5 separate regions of the Homo sapiens genome follow, and regions 2, 3, 4 and 5 are each linked to region 1. Evidence: fine-mapped expression QTL. A gene starts in region 1. Each other region holds a variant in brackets. All regions are shown on one strand. Distances are between the middles of the regions.

Region 1 (4,053 bases):
TACTTACTACCCACTTGATCAAAATTTAAATTATCACCCTAATTTTCTTTTTGTGCTTAAACCAAGTTCTTTGTTATACATCAAGAAATACTGATTAAGATCAAGATTTGTTATAGACTAATAATCCTTAAACTATTATTTCCTTACACTTCCTCCAAATATAGTTATTATTTCTCATTGTGGTTTTTTCCCGCTAGAAGGTTAATGTCCTCAGCTCTTGAATTTTCCCCATTAACCTTGCAATCTTGATCAGGTCCATTTCTAGAACTGAAAGATGTAACACCAACGCGGAGGGATCACTTGAGGTCAGGATTTCGAGACCAGCCTGGCCAACATGGTGAAACTCCGTCTCTACTAAAAATACAAAAATTAGCTGGGTGTGGTGGCATGCGCCTGTAATCCCAGCTACTTAGGAGGCTGAGGCAGAAGAATCACTTGAACCTGGGAGGCGGAGGTTGCAGTGAGCCGAGATCGCAGCACTGCACTCCAGCCTGGGCGACAGAGTGACCCTGTCTCCAAACAAACAAAAAAATAGCAAATGCAAAATTTTAAGAAGTTATATTTTCTTAAATTTTCCAAACTCCTAATAGTGATATTAACAATTTAATTCAACTAATCACTTGTGGACAATATCCCAAAAGTATCATGAAGCTAAGAATATTATGTCTCAGACTGTTTCATAAATCATTTTAAACGGGGAAAAAGGCCAAACGATTTACCGGTAAGCACCATCAATCAATCAACAAATGAAAAACTCTGGTTATACGTCCATGAAAATTTTGATTTCAAACTATTTATTACAGGGCGCGAGGCTGTGTTCCGCCTCCTCCAGCTCCTCCTGATAACCTTTTGGTTATCAGGCGTCAACTGGAGACAACAATCAGTTAAAATCCAGTAAATTTGGGGTTAATGAAACAAATGTTAAAATAGATATAATATTGATAAACATTAGCCAAGAGATGGTAACTACCTAACATTGATTAAGTAAGCAAATAATCAAGGCAGAGGTTTTAGCTTCCACTAATCTATAAAAGCAAGTGAAAATGCTTTGAAAATTGCATTTTTATGCAATTGTTTCAATATCATACCTTTGTATGTAACATTAAAAAGCTCATGATTACTTCATTTCAAAATTCAGATGAGTCACAGTGCTTTCTACGCAGGAATTGGATGTGAATCAAAATTGTAAACATGCACTTGCTTGGTAGTCAAAAAGTGAATGTGGACAGATACAATGTTCGTTGACACAGTAAAACATAATCATAAAATGCATCCTGTGTTTTTAAAATAGTTACTTCCTGTTAACACAGTTCAGGAAACATGCCATCTACCCTCCTCTCCTGGAAAATCTCAAAATTATACTAATCCCATTCCTCTTCTTACAGATAGGCCACTGAAACCTGGAGTCATTACTGATACAGTTATCAGGATTACACCCTCAGAGCCACGATGGTTTCAGGGATACTAGAACCTGAAAATAACAAAAAAAAAAAAAATTTCCAACTCAAATCTAGACAATAAAACTAACATATAAACTGGAATAAAACGCAGGAAATGCCGATTTTAATACCTGGTATGAGGCTGACCATTAAGGCATCCATCAAAAAAGTTTGGAATGTATGAATGAATGACTGCATGAAATTGGCAGGATTTCATTCATTTCAAAAGCTCCAAATTCAGGAACCACACTGAGATATCAGGACGCCACAGCTGAAACTAAAACTCATGAAGGGTAAATGCAACATAACTGCACGTCTCCACGCGTTAGCTGCTGCGAAAATTTCAAAACATACATCTAACATACTCTTTCTTCAAGTAATTGCCGCAAGTGCGGACGGAGCCAGAGAACTAGGAGACTGAAAACAGGCCCTGCTCACCCATAAGCCTTTGCATTATAAGTGGACATGATCTGAGTGAGTCACCGGGAATGAGAAGGAGACAGTCACCCCAGGCCAGGCAGGACGCGGCCAGAATCTCCTGCTCTGCCCCCAACTAGGGAACCGGTCGAAGGAGAGTGGGACGACTGCAACCTGCTGCAGCTAAGTATGCAAGGATCGCGCCGACCGGCTTCCGAGTCGAGATCCCACTAAGTCCCACCGCAGTCACCACAGCCAGCCCTGCCCAGGTATCTCGGAGCTCCGTAACCTCAGAAGGCCTAGTCCTCCAGAAGCTGAGAGCCCCAGCAGGACCGGACGAGGGCAAAAAGCCCCCTCCCGGCTGCCCCTCGCCGCGACGCGGCCCTGCCGCCACATGCTCCACTGCCCCGTCTCCCAGCTCAGCCCCAGCCCCGCAGGGCCTCAGCCGCCCTCCATGCAAGCCGACCGGGCCGCAGGCGGCGCGACCCGGCGGCTCCCGAGCAGGGGTGCAGCGGTGGCAGCCCGCCGCCCCGCACGGCTTACCTCCCTTCTGCCACAAGCTCAGCCCAGCGCCGGCTGCCTGACGTGGCCCGCCCCGCCGCCTCGAACGCCCGGGGGCGGGGACTGCAGGAGAGAGCCAATGGGCTGCATATCGCGAGGCCCTGTTCCGCCTCCTCCGGCTGGGGCCCGCCCTCCCCGGCTCGCGCGCACGCGCGTCTAAGGCCCGGGCCGCGCACTGCGGTTGAAAGGCGGCGTGGGCGGCGGACCCGCGCTCTGCAGCCGAGCTGGTGCGGGGAGGGCTGCGCGCGGGGGCTGGCTGTGGAGCAGCACCGCAGTGAGGAGTTAGCCCAAGGAAAATCAGATTAAAGGAAACTGCCTAGAGATGCCACTGCAGCGTGCCCGGGTAGTCCTGTTGGCAGCCTGCCCCTATGCAGCTTTTGGCAATACAGAACAGCTTCTTGGTATTTGGAGATTTTGTTTCTCGGGGGAAATAAATAATACTGATAACATTAAGGATTCAGAAAATTTAAAGCAGACAGCCGACTTGCCGCGAAGACGCTTCGTTCTTCGCCTAATAGCTACTTGGTGTCTTTACTTCATTTGGCCAACACATAACACTGCAGCTCTCCACGCCACTGTGGTATATCCACTTGTTAGATAGTCCTGAGGTAGTTCTAGCCCAAGTGTTTCTGCTGATCTAATCTGGGGGGAATTGGCGCGAGTAATTATTCTGTTACGATTTTGCGCAATACTTACTGAATGATAAACATGTATTTTCTCGTGGGGCGGGGCAGGGGCTCCCACGTGAGAAGGCTGTAACAGACAGACAGCAGCCACGATGAAACACGCTGAAAAGAGCCAGCAGAAAAAAACGAGGAGAGACTGGTATGACGGAGTGGAATTCCGGTTGTGGATGACAGAATGGAAATTTTACGCAAGATGAAAGAGTTAAGACAAATTACTCTAAAAATATCTGACTTAGTTGTTTCTAAACCCTGGGGCACCCTTAGGAAAAAATAAAAATAAAAAAACAAGTGCCTGGGCCTCATCACTTGGTTGAAAAAGGTCTGCTGCCAGATCTTGACATTGATATTTTTCTAAGTTTCCAAAGTCATTTTAATGTGTAGACAAGAAGTTCTGTTTCTCATTTGTAGGAAGAATTTGGTTCCCCATCACCTCAGAAAAGTAATTATGTATCACAGACCGTTAACAGTTTTCCCAATAACCAACTATGCATTCACCCTCTAAGAATTTATCTAAATTAATCTTGGGGCCAGGTGGGGGGGCTCACACCTGTAATCCCAGCACTTTGGGAGGCCGAGGAGGGCGGAGTTCAAGACCAGCCTAGGCAACGTGGTGAAACCCCATCTCTACTAAAAAAAACATACAAAAATTAGCCCGGCGTGGGGTTGCGCGCCTGCAGTCACGGCTACTCTACTCAGGAGGCTGAGGCAGGAGAATCGCTTGAACCCGGGAGGCGGAGGTTGCAGTGAGCCGAGGTGGCGCCACTGCACTCCAGCCTCTGATGGAGTGAGACTGTCACAATCAATCATTCAATCAATCAATATTGAACCTACTTAAAGTTATTCAACCTCTGTTATCCTTTGCTTCAAAGGAGTTTTATAAGGCTTATAATTCCCTTTTTATGGACTTTGATGATACTCTCTTTCAGTCTTCCAAATGCACCAGTATTTCT
Region 2 (4,000 bases), 74 kb before region 1:
AACTGCGAGATGAAGATAAGAAAAGATAAAGCTGGTGAGATAGATTGGAACTGCATCATATACTAAGCCTACTATGACATATTAGATTTTATCCTATAGTCCAGGGAATTTCAAACTGTTTCAGAAACCAATCCTTTTTGTTTTCCCATAGAAAGCTTCCATAAGATATCAACAAGTAAGTGCTATGAAAACAGAGCCAAAGGGGTGGGAACATGCTCCATGCTTAGCCCATGCACTGCAAGTGCAGTTTGAAAACCACAGCCACAGAGACTTAAGCATGGGAATGATACTGTAAGATCTGCTCTCTTGATATATCCTTCTGAGGGATGTTTAGAGACTGGATTTGACCAGGACAAGACTGGAGGCAGAGACACCAGTTAGGAACAGGTGGCAAGAGCCACATCAAGAGATATTGAGGCCCTGAACCAGCGTCATGGTAGTAAGGATAGAAGAAAGGGGAGTAGCTTTGAGAGCCATCAGGAGGCCTTGGTGAAAGTACACTAACTGCACATATGGTGGCTATCTGATCCCACTTGGCAGTAATACTTTATCTCAAATGGCAGTTTTCTAATGGAGAGACTAACTCATTAGCCAGTGTCCAAGGGGAAGAACTTATCTCCTATATGTATTGTGTAGTAGCTTACTGAATTATTCTAGCCAACTTTCCTAACCACTTACCAATGCTTAACTTCCTTAATAACAGCTTTTCTCATATTCAGTATTTCAACAACCAATAAATCTGGTAGATTTTTTTCTTTTACTCTTTAAAAGAAAATAGAAAACTACAACCTGACATGAAGTCCTTGCCCATGCCTATGTCCTGAATGGTAATGCCTAGGTTTTCTTCTACGGTTTTTATGGTTTTAGGTCTAACATGTAAGTCTTTAATCCATCTTGAATTAAGTTTTGTATAAGGTGTAAGGAAGGGATCCAGTTTCAGCTTTCTCCGTATGGCTAGCCAGTTTTCCCAGCACCATTTATTAAATAGGGAATCCTTTCCCCATTGCTTGTTTTTCTCAGGTTTGTCAAAGATCAGATAGTTGTAGATATGCGGCGTTATTTCTGAAGGCTCTGTTCTGTTCCATTGATCTATATCTCTGTTTTGGTACCAGTACCATGCTGTTTTGGTGACTGTAGCCTTGTAGTATAGTTTGAAGTCAGGTAGTGTGATGCCTCCAGCTTTGTTCTTTTGGCTTAGGATTGACTTGGCAATGCGGGCTCTTTTTTGGTTCCATATGAACTTTAAAGTAGTTTTTAATGGCCTTGGGCAGTATGGCCATTTTCATGATATTGATTCTTCCTACCCATGAGCATGGAATGTTCTTCCATTTGTTTGTATCCTCTTTTATTTCATTGAGCAGTGGTTTGTAGTTCTCCTTGAAGAGGTCCTTCATATCCCTTGTAAGTTGGATTCCTAGGTATTTTATTCTCTTTGAAGCAATTGTGAATGGGAGTTCACTCATGATTTGGCTCTCTGTTTGTCTGTTATTGGTGTATAAGAATGCTTGTGATTTTTGTACATTGAGTTTGTATCCTGAGACTTTGCTGAAGTTGCTTATCAGCTTAAGGAGATTTTGGGCTGAGTCAGTGGGGTTTTCTAGATATACAATCATGTCATCTGCAAACAGGGACAATTTGACTTCCTCTTTTCATAATTGAATACCCTTTATTTCCTTCTCCTGCCTAATTGCCCTGGCCAGAACTTCCAACACTATGTTGGCACATATACACCATGGAATACTATGCAGCCATAAAAAATGATGAGTTCAGGTCCTTTGTAGGGACATGAATGTAACTGGAAATCATCATTCTCAGTAAACTATCACAAGAACAAAAAACCAAACACCGCATAGTCTCACTTATAGGTGGGAATTGAACAATGAGAACACATGGACACAGGAAGGGGAACATCACAATCTGGGGACTGTTGTGGGGTTGGGGGAGGGGGGAGGGATAGCATTAGGAGATATACCTAATGCTAAATGACGAGTTAATGGGTGCAGCACACCAGCATGGCACATGTATACATATGTAACCTACCTGCACATTGTGCACATGTACCCTAAAACTTAAAGTATAATAATAATAAAATTAAATTTAAAAAGAAAAGAAAACTACAACCTGCTCTAGGATGGTTCTTCAGGAGAAAAC[A/T]TTATAGATCAAAGCAGCTAAAAAGAAACAAACAAACAAAAAAAAACCCTAGCTCTAAAATTAGCATATACCATTCTGTCTCCCTCACTTTATTTTACACTTTTATTTTACATTACCTTTCAGGGCACTGCTGGAAAAACGCTGTCAGCTGCTGCAAAAACACTGGCCAGCAATCAGGTCTGTGTTCAAGCACAGTTATCAAAGGATGAGGATGATTTCTGAAAGACACAGAAAGTCACATGGGAACCTGTTATTCAGGACTACACATTTTCAATATCCAAATATAGCAGCAAAGAAGCCAGTACCTACCATCTAGAGACTTTTTTCACGATTCATAATTGTCACAAAATGATCACTTGCTCCATTTGTTGCAGAGTTGGTTCATCAGAACTGACTCTCCCCCCTGCCTTTTCCTAACATTTTTGCAGAAAACAAAATGGACACAGGAGCCTCAGAGATCCAAATCTGGGAATGGACTCTTCCATTTAACAGTTCTGTGACTTTGGCCAAGCTCCTGAATCCAGCAGCTCTCTCATATCCATCCCCTTGATCCTTCATTCCTAGAGGTTACAAGCCACCTCCTCCTCCTGCTACCGCTGCTCTCTTTCCAAGCCTGGTAAGTTCCATTTCCTCCAACCTTACCCGAACCCATAAGCTCTGTCTCTCCCTCTCTGTTTCCAGGTACTTCATTATTCCCATTGTATGGTTCTGCGCTTCCCCAGCATATTTAAGAATAGAAAAAAGGAAATATTCCTTCCATCTTAACAACTATCCAAACTGAAGATGCATAAAATTTCTGTTGAATGCAGATGAATCCGTTTATTTGAGCTACTTCTATTAAGATACCTAAAGAGACTATATAAAACATAAAATCTGAAATTTGAAGGATTCTCAAAGAATGGGGTTTAACCCCAAAAAAAAACAAAAAGTACAACCATGAGTTATTTTAAATAGTTCAAAAAGGCTACTCTACTAATAATTGTAAATTGGTCAGCTTTTTAAACTATTAAGTACTATACAATTTTTAGCTATTATTTATGTGGCTTTTTCCTCCAAGAAAATATTTAAATAAGATTTAAGGCTGGACGCGGTGGCTCACGCCTGTAATCCCAGCACTTTGGGAGGCCAAGATGGGTGGATCACCTGAGGTTGGGAGTTCGAGACCAGCCTGACCAACATGGAGAAACCCTGTCTCTACTAAAAATACAAAATTAGCCGGGAATGGTGGCGCATGCCTGTAATCCCAGCTACTCAGGAGGCTGAGGAAGGTGAATCACTTAAACTTGGGAGGCGGAGGTTGCGGTGAACTGATATTATGCTATTGCACTCCAGCCTGGGCAACAAGAGCAAAACTCCATCTCAAAAAAAAACATTAAAATGCTCATTGTAAAAACATGCAAACAATACAGAAATATCAATCTTTTTAGCATAAAAGGAACCACATACACGGAGCTAGTCTTTAATTTTAATATATCTCCAGCAATGATTTTTCAAAAAAGAGTAACAATCAGACCATCAGTTACACTCAGATGATTTTTTAAGATTGCCTTCATGGTGATTCTCAAAATGTGATGCCTTACTAGTAAGATCAACTGGGAACTTGTTAGAAATGCAAATTCTCAAGCCCTAGCCCAGACCTAATAAATAGCCCTGCAGGAAATTCTGATGCACTGCTATAAAGCAGTGGTTCCTATTCTTGGTTGCAAGTTAGATTAGCTGTAGAGCCCTTAATACTAATGCCCAGGTCTGTTATCTTAGACTGCTAGGAATGAAGTTTGTCCCCTAGCAATTTTTTAAAATTCTACAGGTAATTTTAATATGTTACCAGGATTCAGAACTGCTACAAGTA
Region 3 (4,053 bases), 22 kb after region 1:
GTATTTTGAAAAATAGTTTTATTGAGGTAAATATGACATACATTAAACTTTATGTATTTAAAGTATACAATTTAATAAGCTTTGACACATGTATAAACTCTTGAAACCATCACCATTATTAAGATATCACCCTGGGCCGGGCACAATGGCTCACGCCTGTAATCCCAGCACATTGGGATGCTAAGTCAGGAGGATTGCTTGAGGCCAGGAGTTTGAAACCAGCCTGGTCAACAAAGCGAGACCTCATCTCCATGAGAAAAAAAAAAAAAAAGAAAGGAAAGAAAAGAAAAGAAAAGAAAAGAAATCACTCTGGCATTTGAAGCTCTCCACTATAAGGTTCCTTCTTTATGGGATTTATCTCTCCCTTCCTGCTTATTTGCCTTATTCCTCTTGAATATATTATAAACTTATAAACTCTTCAGAAAGACTGATGAAGCCCTACTTGTTTTTGGAGCCCTTAAAATGCTTAGTAGATAATATGCACTGAGAAATGAATAGCTCTTTCTAATTGAGGTCTGATTTGTTGAACCATTAAATAGAATCAGTATTAATTGAACTATTACTTTTTACCTCTTTTAATAAAGTAGGTGTTTCTATGGTCATACTAGATGTCAGATCACTTAGTCAATATGTCAGATCACTTAGTCAACCTTGTCTCACAAATAGATATAAATTTAATACTATAAACTATTTTTTATTTATATATGGGTCTAGAAATATAGAACTTTTTAAAAGGAAAACATATGTTATTTAAATATAGAACTTTTAAAATTAGATTTTCTGCAGAATCTTGAGGAGAAAACAGAGTTAATACATTCATTTCATTAATAATTAATAAAAACAACAATGCTGATATTTTCACTTCACTGTTGGAAAAGTGCTTTGAAATTTACTGTCTCAGTGGATCTCATTAAGACAAAATAACAACACAAAATAGGTAACTGGGAAAACAAGTTTAAAAGACATCATCCACTAGTGATTTACTTCATGACATTAATAAAGAATAGAAAGAAACATAATCCCTACATGTTTATTTGTTCAAGTATGAAGATTGGGAGAAAATATCATATAAAGTACACTTTGTAAGGATACTTGAGATGGTTTTTACAGAAAATGTGTTTTAGAGAAATGGAAAATGCAGAAGTCTGAAAAGGAAAGTCTTTCAGAAAATACTGTGATACGTGAAGCAGTCTCAGGCTTGAGGTTACGTATTGTTTTCCTCACACAAGAATTTTAAAAGCATTCTGGTACCATTATTGAAGTGGCAACTATATTGAATTCTTTGAAAAGAGGGCCCATGTCTTAGAATTGTTTTTGATGCATAGCATTTAATAAAATGTCTATTAAGTGATTAAGGATAGATGATAGATTGGAAGATTGCAAACATAGTCATAAACTGTGTGTATGTGTGTGTGTGTGTGTGTGTGTGTGTGTGTGTTCATGCACACATGCATACATGTAGTAGGTAATATGGACCGCTGATAGAAATATTTCGTTAAGGAAAAGAGTGCCTCTTAATTTTTTATATTATTTATTTGTTTGCTTGCTTGTTTTTTCAGACAGGGTCTTTCCCTGTCACTCAGGCTGGAGTGCAGTGCATGATCACAGCTCACTGTAACCTCAAACTCCTGAGCTCAGGAATACAGACATGTGCCACCATGTCTGACTAATTTTTTGTTTTTTATTTTTTTGTAGAGGCAGTCTCACTATGTTGCCCAGGCTGGTCTCAAACTCCTAACTTTAAGCAATCCTCCCACCTCAGCCTCTCAAAGAGCTGGGATTACAGGCATGAAGCTATCACACCCAGCCTAATTTAATTTGCAAACATAGCCACTGTTCCTTGATATTATCAGAAGTAAAAAACCTTTTGTTTTATAGTTTGTTTACTGAGAATAAGATACATTATAAGTGTTACTGTTAAAACTGTAACTTTAAAAGGTTATATTGAAATACATTAGACTCAAGACAACTGGATACAAATAATTTTCTATTATGTTATTTGAATTATTCCTTTAAGTTTAAATGTCTTGATTTTTCTATTAAGTATACTATGCATTGAAAACTAAATCTTTAGAATGTTATCAAAATATATTCCTGACTCTTCCAAAAGCAGGCTCTGAGCCAAAGTTTGGGTTGCAAGACGTTTATCAGGGATAAATATCTGGCTGGGTGCCGTGGCTCACGCCTGTAATCCTAGCACTTTGGGAGACCAAGGCAGGGAGCCCAGGTGTTCAAGACCAGCCTGGGCAATATAATGAGACC[C/A]CCACCTCTAAAAAAAAAAATTTAAAAATAGAAATAAAAAGGTATAAATATCTGTCAAACGTGTTGGGGAGTGGGGAGAGGAAGCAGAATTGAGCAGGAAAAAAGCTGAAACCAGATGCAGGCTGGACAAAGTCCCCAGTCACCCTGGCTGGGAGCTTAGGAGGCTAATATTGCCCTTCGGAGTTGTCCCAGACTAAAATGTCCCAGTCTTTATTCCCTTGCTTCTCTCAGTCACCAAATGTAAGCTGCCTTGGGAAGGGCATGACTTTGGCTAAGATGGCTCTTTACCCCCGAGGCTGACCCTAAAGGAGCTGACAGCTGGAGGCTTTTGTGCAGACTACGTTCTCCACAGCTGGGCAGTAATTAATTCCTTGTAATGGGATCTGGACTGTGCATCTCCATGGCTATCACAATGTAGCTTGTAATTATACACACACACACACACATATATGCACACACACACACATATATTTCCACTTTATGTTTAGCAACACAGCCACATTTAAAAAATAAAAACAATATAAAAAGTTTACTGTGAAATCATGTCCCATCCACTACTTGTAGATATTTTCAGTAGTTCTTTGTGCAACTAAGGCAAATATCATACATATTCATAATTCCCCATTTTTCATAGACAAAAGGTGCATACTCTACCACTGTTTTGTACCTTGCCTTTTTTTCACTTAATCTTGGTTATCTTTTCATGTCAATATATAAAGAATTTCCTCATTCTTTCTTTTACAGCAGCATTTTTTGATGGCCATTTCAGAGGTTTCCAAGCTTTTACTAATAACAGTGGTGCTTTTGCCCACATCATTTTGTACCTGCCTAAGTATATCTGTAGGATAAAGTGACAGAAGTAGAATTTCTGAGTCTAAGTGTAAATGCCTTTGTAATCTGGTATTACTGAATTAACTTCCATAGGGCTTGCAGCAATATGTACTCAATGTATCCTATGTTTAGCAATATGAAAATTAGACACAATGGCTGATTTTCTAAATATTGACCTCTTTTTCCCAGTGTGACAAAATGTAAAACAGTAGGAAGAGAGATAGTGAGAAAAAGAAGGACACTGAGAATATCTCAGTTTAACAGTTCCCTCTTAGACTTTAATTACCTGCCTAGTCTGTGCTCCTTGGCCCATCAAGTGAACAACTGCCTCCCAACCATTTAAATTCCCTCATTTTTAACACCTCCCTTTCCCCACTCCTCACAACCAAGTCAGGTTTTTCTATCACAGCCTGCTGCAAAACCCAGTCTTGAGACAATCTTATAATACATGTTGTCTACTCTTCCTCCTACAGAACTCAGCACATTGGAGACTATCATACATCTTTAAGTGGTGCTGACACTACAATTTCAATGTTTCTCCTGTCTATTGAGCCCTTCATGCTACTTCTCAGTCCTTTTACTAGTCTTTGGTTGTCTCCCAACCCATTCTCCTCTACCACATTTTTCAGATAACTTTGCTTCCGTACTTCTCAGAGAAGACCAAGAACATCAGAGTGAATGCCATCATTTTCAGTTGCCATTGCCAAACATCTCCACAGCCTCCTTAGCTCTCCAGCTGTGCTCTTAATTCTACTTCTCTAATTTCTCTAAAACATCCCTTCTCAAATTATTCCTCTCTGTCTTAAACCTCCCCTCTTCTGCTGACTCCTTTCCCGTGGTCTATGAACATGTTCAACCACTCCATTTTAATCACAGTCTTGTCATGGAATGTCCCCATAATTTTTGCCCAAATTGCTCTCTCTCTCTCTCTTTCTCTTTGACTGTCTGCCTCTCATATCC
Region 4 (4,053 bases), 29 kb after region 1:
GCAGCCTAACTGGGAGGCACCCCCCAGCAGGGGCACACTGACACCTCACATGGCAGGGTATTCCAACAGACCTGCAGCTGAGGGTCCTGTCTGTTAGAAGGAAAACTAACAAACAGAAAGGACATCCACACCAAAAACCCATCTGTACATCACCATCATCAAAGACCAAAAGTAGATAAAACCACAAAGATGGGGAAAAAACAGAACAGAAAAACGGGAAACTCTAAAAAGCAGAGCGCCTCTCCTCCTCCAAAGGAACGCAGTTCCTCACCAGCAACGGAACAAACCTGGATGGAGAATGACTTTGATGAGCTGAGAGAAGAAGGCTTCAGACGATCAAATTACTCTGAGCTACGGGAGGACATTCAAACCAAAGGCAAAGAAGTTGAAAACTTTGAAAAAAATTTAGAAGAATGTATAACTAGAATAACCAATACAGAGAAGTGCTTAAAGGAGCTGATGGAGCTGAAAACCAAGGCTCGAGAACTACGTGAAGAATGCAGAAGCCTCAGGAGCCGATGCCATCAACTGGAAGAAAGGGTATCAGCAATGGAAGATGAAATGAATGAAATGAAGCGAGAAGGGAAGTTTAGAGAAAAAAGAATAAAAAGAAATGAGCAAAGCCTCCAAGAAATATGGGACTATGTGAAAAGACCAAATCTACGTCTGATTGGTGTACCTGAAAGTGATGGGGAGAATGGAACCAAGTTGGAAAACACTCTGCAGGATATTATCCAGGAGAACTTCCCCAATCTAGCAAGGCAGGCCAACGTTCAGATTCAGGAAATACAGAGAACGCCACAAAGATACTCCTCGAGAAGAGCAACTCCAAGACACATAATTGTCAGATTCACCAAAGTTGAAATGAAGGAAAAAATGTTAAGGGCAGCCAGAGAGAAAGGTCAGGTTACCCTCAAAGGGAGGCCCATCAGACTAACAGCGGATCTCTCGGCAGAAACCCTACAAGCCAGAAGAGAGTGGGGGCCAATATTCAACATTCTTAAAGGAAAGAATTTTCAACCCAGAATTTCATATCCAGCCAAACTAAGCTTCATAAGCGAAGGAGAAACAAAATACTTTACAGACAAGCAAATGCTGAGAGATTTTGTCACCACCAGGCCTGCCCTAAAAGAGCTCCTGAAGGAAGCGCTAAACATGGAAAGGAACAACCGGTACCAGCCGCTGCAAAATCATGCCAAAATATAAAGACCATCAAGACTAGGAAGAAACTGCATCAACTAACGAGCAGAATAACCACCTAACATCATAATGACAGGATCAAATTCACACATAACGCTATTAACTTTAAATGTAAATGGACTAAATGCTCCAATTAAAAGACACAGACTGGCAAATTGGATAAACAGTCAAGACCCATCAGTGTGCTGTATTCAGGAAACCCATCTCACGTGCAGAGACACACATAGGCTCAAAATAAAAGGATGGAGGAAGCTCTACCAAGCAAATGGAAAACAAAAAAAGGCAGGGGTTGCAATACTAGTCTCTGATAAAACAGACTTTAAACCAACAAAGATCAAAAGAGACAAAGAAGGCCATTACATAATGGTAAAGGGATCAATTCAACAAGAAGAGCTAACTATCCTAAATATATATACACCCAATACAGGAGCACCAAGATGCATAAAGCAAGTCCTGAGTGACCTACAAAGAGACTTAGACTCCCACACAATAATAATGGGAGACTTTAACACCCCACTGTCAACATTAGACAGATCAACGAGACAGAAAGTCAACAAGGATACCCAGGAATTGAACTCAGCTTTGCACCAAGCAGACCTAATAGACATCTACAGAACTCTCCACCCCAAATCAACAGAATATACATTTTTTTCAGCACCACACCACACCTATTCCAAAATTGACCACATACTTGGAAGTAAAGCTCTCCTCAGCAAATGTAAAAGAACAGAAATTATAACAAACTATCTCTCAGACCACAGTGCAATCAAACTAGAACTCAGGATTAAGAATCTCACTCAAAACCGCTCAACTACATGGAAACTGAACAACCTGCTCCTGAATGACTACTGGGTACATAACAAAATGAAGGCAGAAATAAAGATGTTCTTTGAAAACAACGAGAACAAAGACACAACATACCAGAATCTCTGGGACACATTCAAAGCAGTGTGTAGAGGGAAATTTATAGCACTAAATGCCCACAAGAGAAAGCAGGAAAGATCTAAAATTGACACCCTAACATCACAATTAAAAGAACTAGAAAGGCAAGAGCAAACACATTCAAAATCTAGCAGAAGGCAAGAAATAACTAAAATCAGAGCAGAACTGAAGGAAATAGAGACACAAAAAACCCTTCAAAAAAGTCATGACTCCAGGAGCTGGTTTTTTGAAAGGATCAACAAAATTGATAGACCGCTAGCAAGACTAATAAAGAAAAAAAGAGAGAAGAATTTAATAGACACAATAAAAAATGTCTTATCTCTTATGGCTATCTGTGATTAGTGATCTTTGATGTTACTCTTGCAATTGCATTGGTGCAC[C/A]ACAAACCACACCCTAGAAGACTTGAATTTAATTGAGAAATGTTGTGTGTGTCCTGATTGTTCCACGCTTCCACAGATCAGACATTCCCCCATCTCTCTCCCTTTGTTCAGGCCTCCTTATTCCCTGAGAAATAACAATATTGAAATTAGACCAATAACCCTAAGACTTCTAAACGTTCAAGTGAAAAGAAGAGTCACTCATCCCTCACTAGCAATCAAAAGCTAAAAACGATTAAGCATCTCAAAAGCCATGGTAGGCTGAAAGCTAGGCCTCTTGCATCAGTTAGCCAAATTGTGAATGCAAAGGGAAAGTTATTGAGGAAAATTAAAAAGAGCTACTCCAGTGAACACATGAATGCTAAGAAAGCAAAACAGCCTCGTTCCTGATACGGAGAAAGTTTTGGCGGTCAGGATATAAAATCAAACCAGCCACAGCATTCTCTAAAGCCAAAACCTAATCCAGAGCAAGGCTCTAACTCTCTTCAATTCTATGAAGGCTGAGACACATGAGGAAGGTGCAGAAGAAAATTTAGAAGCTAGCAGATTGGTTCATGAAGTTTAAAGAAGGAAGTCATCTTCAAAACATAAAAGTGCAAAGTGAAGCTGCAAGTGCTGATGTAAAAGTTGCAGCAAATTATCCAGATCTAGCTGAGATCACTGATGAAGGAGGAACACTAAACAACATATTTTCAGTGTAGATGAAACACCTTTCCATTGAAAGAATATGCCATCTAGAAATTTTATAGCTAAAGAGGAGAAGTCAGTGCCTTGCTTCAAAGCTTCAAAAGACAGGTTGACCCTCTTGTTAGGGGCTGATGGCTTTCATTTGAAACCAATGCATACTTACTATTCTGAAAATTTTAGGGCCCTTAAAAATGATGCTAAATCCATTCTGCCACTGTTTTATAAGTGAAATCACAAAGCCTGAATGACAGCACTTCTGTTTATAGCATGGTTTACCGAATATTTTAAGCCCCGTGTAAAGACTTACTGCTCAGGAAAAAAAAAAAAAAAAAGATTCCTTTCATCCTCACTGACAATGTACCTGGTTACACAAGAGCTGTGATGGAGATGTACAAGGAGATGAATGTTACTATTATGCCTGCTAACACGACATCTATTCCGCAGCCCACGGATCAAGAAGTAATTTCAGTTTTCAACTCTTTTATTATTACTATCGTTATTGTAAAGCTACAGCTGCCATAGATAGTAATTTGTCTGGTGGATCTCGGCAAAGTAAATTGAAAACCTTCTGGAAGGGGTTAACCATTATATATGCCATTAAGAACATTTGTGACTCATGGGAAGAGGTCAAAATATCAACATGAACAATTTAGAAAAAGTTGATTCCAACCTTCATGGGTGACTTTGAGGGGTTCAAGATTTCAGTAGAGGAAATCACTGCAGATGTGGCAGAAATAGCAAGATAACTATAATTAGAAGTGGAGCCTAGGGTCGGGTGGCTCACACCTGTAATCCCAGCACTTCGGGAGGCCGAGGTGGGCGGATCACGAGGTCAGGAGATCTAGAC
Region 5 (4,000 bases), 31 kb before region 1:
CCTAGAGGGTTTTAATAAATTTAAAACTTTTTTATTGCTATATATTAAAAAGGCAAACAAATAAACAAAAAAGGCAATGAAGTTCTCACAGTTCAAAAGCATTTCTACTGTGATCTGAACTATCAGGGAAACAAGACAGGTGCATATGTGATCCAGCTAGTAGCAATCTTATCTGAAGAGAATTAAAGCATAAAGTTAAACACAGACCTGATTTGTAGATTGGTGAATCTTTTCTGAAAAACCATTTTCCTTTAGGACTGCAGCAATAAGATGACCCACAGCCTTAAAAAGAAATAAAATTAATGAACACAGTCCCTTAGAAGTTCTTTCCAAATATCAATACTAGTTGATATGAGTATGCCAGGCAGTCAATTAGGATTAAGTAAAATTCCCATTAACTAAGTGTGTGCTATGTAGAAGGCATTGAATTAGGCACTCCACATGCACAATTTCTAATCTTCAGAATAGCCCTCAAGGTAGGCATATCTATCCCAGGTTACCAATAAGCAACTATAGTGCATAGAGGTTAAGAAAACTGCCAGATTTTTGGTTCAAATTGCTGTCAGTATCAGAAGATAACTTGAGATTGCTTACTCCATTAAAACATGAATGAGAAAGCCCATAGTTTTTAAAATCATCTTTGCACTGAAACGAAATCCACCATGCTTCATCACACTGTTAACGAATATGAAGAATATGTCTTAGAGCCAATAGGCTAGCAACAATCATTGCCATTCTGTGTACGGGTTGGAAACTACTTCACTATTGCTACAACTGTCCATCCTGCACTTGGGACCAAATTACGGTATAGCTGTGAATAACTGTCAGTCCTGCAAAGTCTCCAGAACAGCTCAAATAAAAACACAGCACCCACTCCTTCCTCATTTTTCTCTTTGTATTTCACACATTGGAACTGATTTAAGACCGTGGTGCTTGTGGTCTAGTTTTGTGATATAAGTCACTCATTTACATGAATATTAAGTTTAGTCCAACTTACTGTCTCTTATCTCCTAGTAAAAGGAATAGTAATAAGAACTGAGCACCCATGGATAGGTTGAGCTCCTGTTTTACAAAACATACCATATTTCATTGAATGGAACTGACCAGGAATTGCAAGTTGCACCATTATACTGTGTGCCACTAAGAAAGAAAAAAGGCTGCCAATTAGTCTATGATATACAGTGCTTCTTATAAGTCGGAATTTTGGTTTTATAGTCACACAAGAGTTCTTTTAGACTCGTGTAGAAAATCATGCCCAAGTTCACAAATGTGCAGGCAATACCAACTGTATCTCAACTGCTGCCATCAATTACTAGAGGCAATCCAATTTCAAAGATGTTAAAATCTGAAAAAAAACGTGTGTGAATCAAAGAAATATGGTGCTAACATCGAGCAGTGGTTACAGAAGAACAATAAGAAATATTTGCAAAGGACAGGACACAATCACAAGAACCTAATAAAACTAATATGAAACACAATAGGGACAAAGAAAAAGCTATAGTTCATATCTAGAAAAAGAAATAAAAGAAGAGAAGCTTAATTCCCCATTCCCCACCAGGTTGAATTTATCTAATATACTTTTCACTTCATCTTCTAACAAATCAGAGATACTAGCCTAAACTGATTTTTTAAAATACAAAACCCAAGGATAAATCAGCCTACATTGCTACTTAAGTGTTCTATAACAGAATTCAAATAGCCATCCTACACTAAACAATATAAATATATATATATATTTTTTTCACCTAATTTAACAGTAACACGTATGGGCATTTCTTGATTATCTATGTTAACAAAGAGACTCCAGGCACAGAAAAATAAAAC[T/C]GTGAATAGTATCCTCCAAGCCTTCATCTTCTTCTTCATGGTAAGGACCTGCAGGATATGACTCCAACCCAGCCAGGTAGAAGGGAATCTTGCATAAGGAGTGTTCTACTCCTCATGGAAGGGTTCCCCACTACCCAGCTAAGTCAATTCCCACAGCAGACATCTCCGAAGTTAATTGTTGAAAGTATCCAAGGTGCTGTATGTTGTTAAGTCTTCAAGATGGCTTCTGCTGGTCTGTTAGCTTTACTCTCACAAGAAAAGACAATAAGCTATTATGATACCTTGATTAACCAGAATGTTTCTAGTTAGCTAAAGGCTACCCAGAAAGCCATCTTTGTTTTAACTATTTAATTATTGAAAAGCTCTTTAAAGTTATCACAATCTTCTATCTTAGTAGATATATCAAATTTTCTAATCCAGGATATTTTACTTATTAAATATCATTATTATAAAAATCTATATAAGGGGTAGGATATGTCTTCTTAAATATTAATCCCTCATACTCTTCAGACATATAACTGTTTACCTCTGTTCCCAATAATCATAGGCCAAAAAAAACCAAACAAACATATTCAGGGGCCTACTAGTTAATCAAGGTTTTATTATCTCTAGGAAGAAAAGTATGATATATAAACAGAAGCTGAGATTGATCAATTTCAAATATTTGCTTTCCATGTCAAATATATATTTTCAAATTAAATGTATATTTAAAGTTGTTTCACAAAATATAAATCTCTACATGTAGAATAAAATATTTAATATTAAATATATAAAGTTCAGTTAAAAATCCACAGAACAGGTTTATTTGTTACCATGAGCAAAAATAAACAAACAAAATTACCTGTGATTGGATAAGAGAATTTGGAAATTCAAACCTTTTCCTGATATCATCTGACATTTTTGCTTCTCTTACATGTATGTGTGCAGCTTCTGTAACCAAAACAAAAGAATATTTGTTAGTCTTCCAACTGGTCTGAATTGGGGCTCCAATTAATTATTCCTCAAATAATGTGAATGTAATCCATTCCAAAGATAACAATGGAAATAAAGCACAGGGCTCTGCAGAGTAATCCTTGGCAAAACTTCATTGTCATCCAGCACTCAAATGTCATGATTGATAAATAAACTAAAAATGCCCAACAGCTCTTGGTTTTTCCCATGAGAGCTAATCCTGAAAAAGATGAATTTGCACTACGGAAATGAAAAAAACATCCAAAAGTTCAACCACACATTTGAAATAGAAATTAATTCTTTTGTGGATCAAAACTTATAAGGGAGAAAGAGTCAAACGGTCATAAAATTACTTCATCTATGCCTCACTTTGGCACAAGCTTTCATCTAAGCACTAATCCAACTGCTAGTGACAAGTGTGAAGCCTAGGTGAACTTTTTTCAAGAAGTATAGAAAAGACCTAGAAGTTCACACATTAAAACAGACTGTTTCCTAAAGGAGGAACAAGCAAACAATTAGCACCAACTTTTAATATTTATATCTCACTTATCATTCCTACTGGGCTCACAAGAAAAGAAAAGTGAAAGAGAGAAAGAGAGAGGAAGGAAGGAAGGAAGGAAGGAAGGAAGGAAGGAAGGAAGGAAGGAAGGAAGGAAGGAAGGAAGGCAGGCAGGCAGGCAGGCAGGCAGGCAGGCAAGCATGCAAAAGGATGGGGAAGGCAGGTGGTAAAGCAGGACCATGGAACTAATAAGAGGATTTCCTAAGGATCCCAATTTATCCCATTTCCATGAAGCACTGAACCTACCAATTACATTATTTTGAAAAACAGGGCCCTCTAGGTCACCTACTTTTACAATATAATTAAAATTAAAATTTATGTCAATAAACAGCCCTAGATTAACTTATAACAAGCAGAAAAACCAAGTTCCCTTGATCTCAAAAAACAAAGCATATTGTAATGAACTAGCAGCCTTTTCTAACTGCAGGTTGAGCAACCCTAATCTGAAAATACAAAATTCAAAATGTTACAAAATCTGAAACTTTTTGAGCACTGACGTGACACTCAAAGGAAATGCTCATTGGAGCACTTTGGATTTTCAGATTGGATTTTCAACCGGTTTAAAGTATATGCAAATAGTCCAAAAAAAAATTTTTTTTTTAAATCCAAATCCAAAACACTTCTGGTCCCGAGCATTTCAGATAAAGAATACTCAATCTGTACTTT

What was found.
Region 2: its variant is fine-mapped to the expression of FOCAD in whole blood (TOPMed, PIP 0.96).
Region 3: its variant is fine-mapped to the expression of FOCAD in fibroblasts (GTEx, PIP above 0.99).
Region 4: its variant is fine-mapped to the expression of FOCAD in whole blood (TOPMed, PIP above 0.99).
Region 5: its variant is fine-mapped to the expression of FOCAD in whole blood (TOPMed, PIP above 0.99).

Annotation. Positions count from the first base shown.
Region 1 is chr9:20,682,640-20,686,692 of GRCh38, reverse strand. FOCAD (focadhesin) reads right to left here and starts at 2,434. Exons shown (of 44, transcript NM_001375567.1): 1 at 2,400-2,434. It overlaps FOCAD-AS1 (FOCAD antisense RNA 1), which reads left to right and starts at 1,943. Exons shown (of 2, transcript NR_121601.1): 1 at 1,943-2,125; 2 at 3,152-3,391. RefSeq lists an enhancer at 1,992-2,732 and a silencer at 2,132-2,831.
Region 2 is chr9:20,756,459-20,760,458 of GRCh38, reverse strand. FOCAD (focadhesin) reads right to left here. Exons shown (of 44, transcript NM_001375567.1): 6 at 2,268-2,369. Among named protein-coding and RNA genes, the nearest start is that of SNORA30B, 28 kb to the left of the region's middle. The variant A/T (reference allele first, on the strand shown) is at 2,152.
Region 3 is chr9:20,660,860-20,664,912 of GRCh38, reverse strand. It overlaps a transcript of FOCAD not described here. Among named protein-coding and RNA genes, the nearest start is that of FOCAD, 21 kb to the left of the region's middle. The variant C/A (reference allele first, on the strand shown) is at 2,263.
Region 4 is chr9:20,654,035-20,658,087 of GRCh38, reverse strand. It overlaps a transcript of FOCAD not described here. Among named protein-coding and RNA genes, the nearest start is that of FOCAD, 28 kb to the left of the region's middle. The variant C/A (reference allele first, on the strand shown) is at 2,523.
Region 5 is chr9:20,714,076-20,718,075 of GRCh38, reverse strand. It overlaps FOCAD (focadhesin), which reads right to left. Exons shown (of 44, transcript NM_001375567.1): 2 at 2,666-2,754; 3 at 208-282. The coding sequence starts at 2,722. MIR491 (microRNA 491) reads right to left here and starts at 1,971; the gene lies at 1,888-1,971. The variant T/C (reference allele first, on the strand shown) is at 1,825.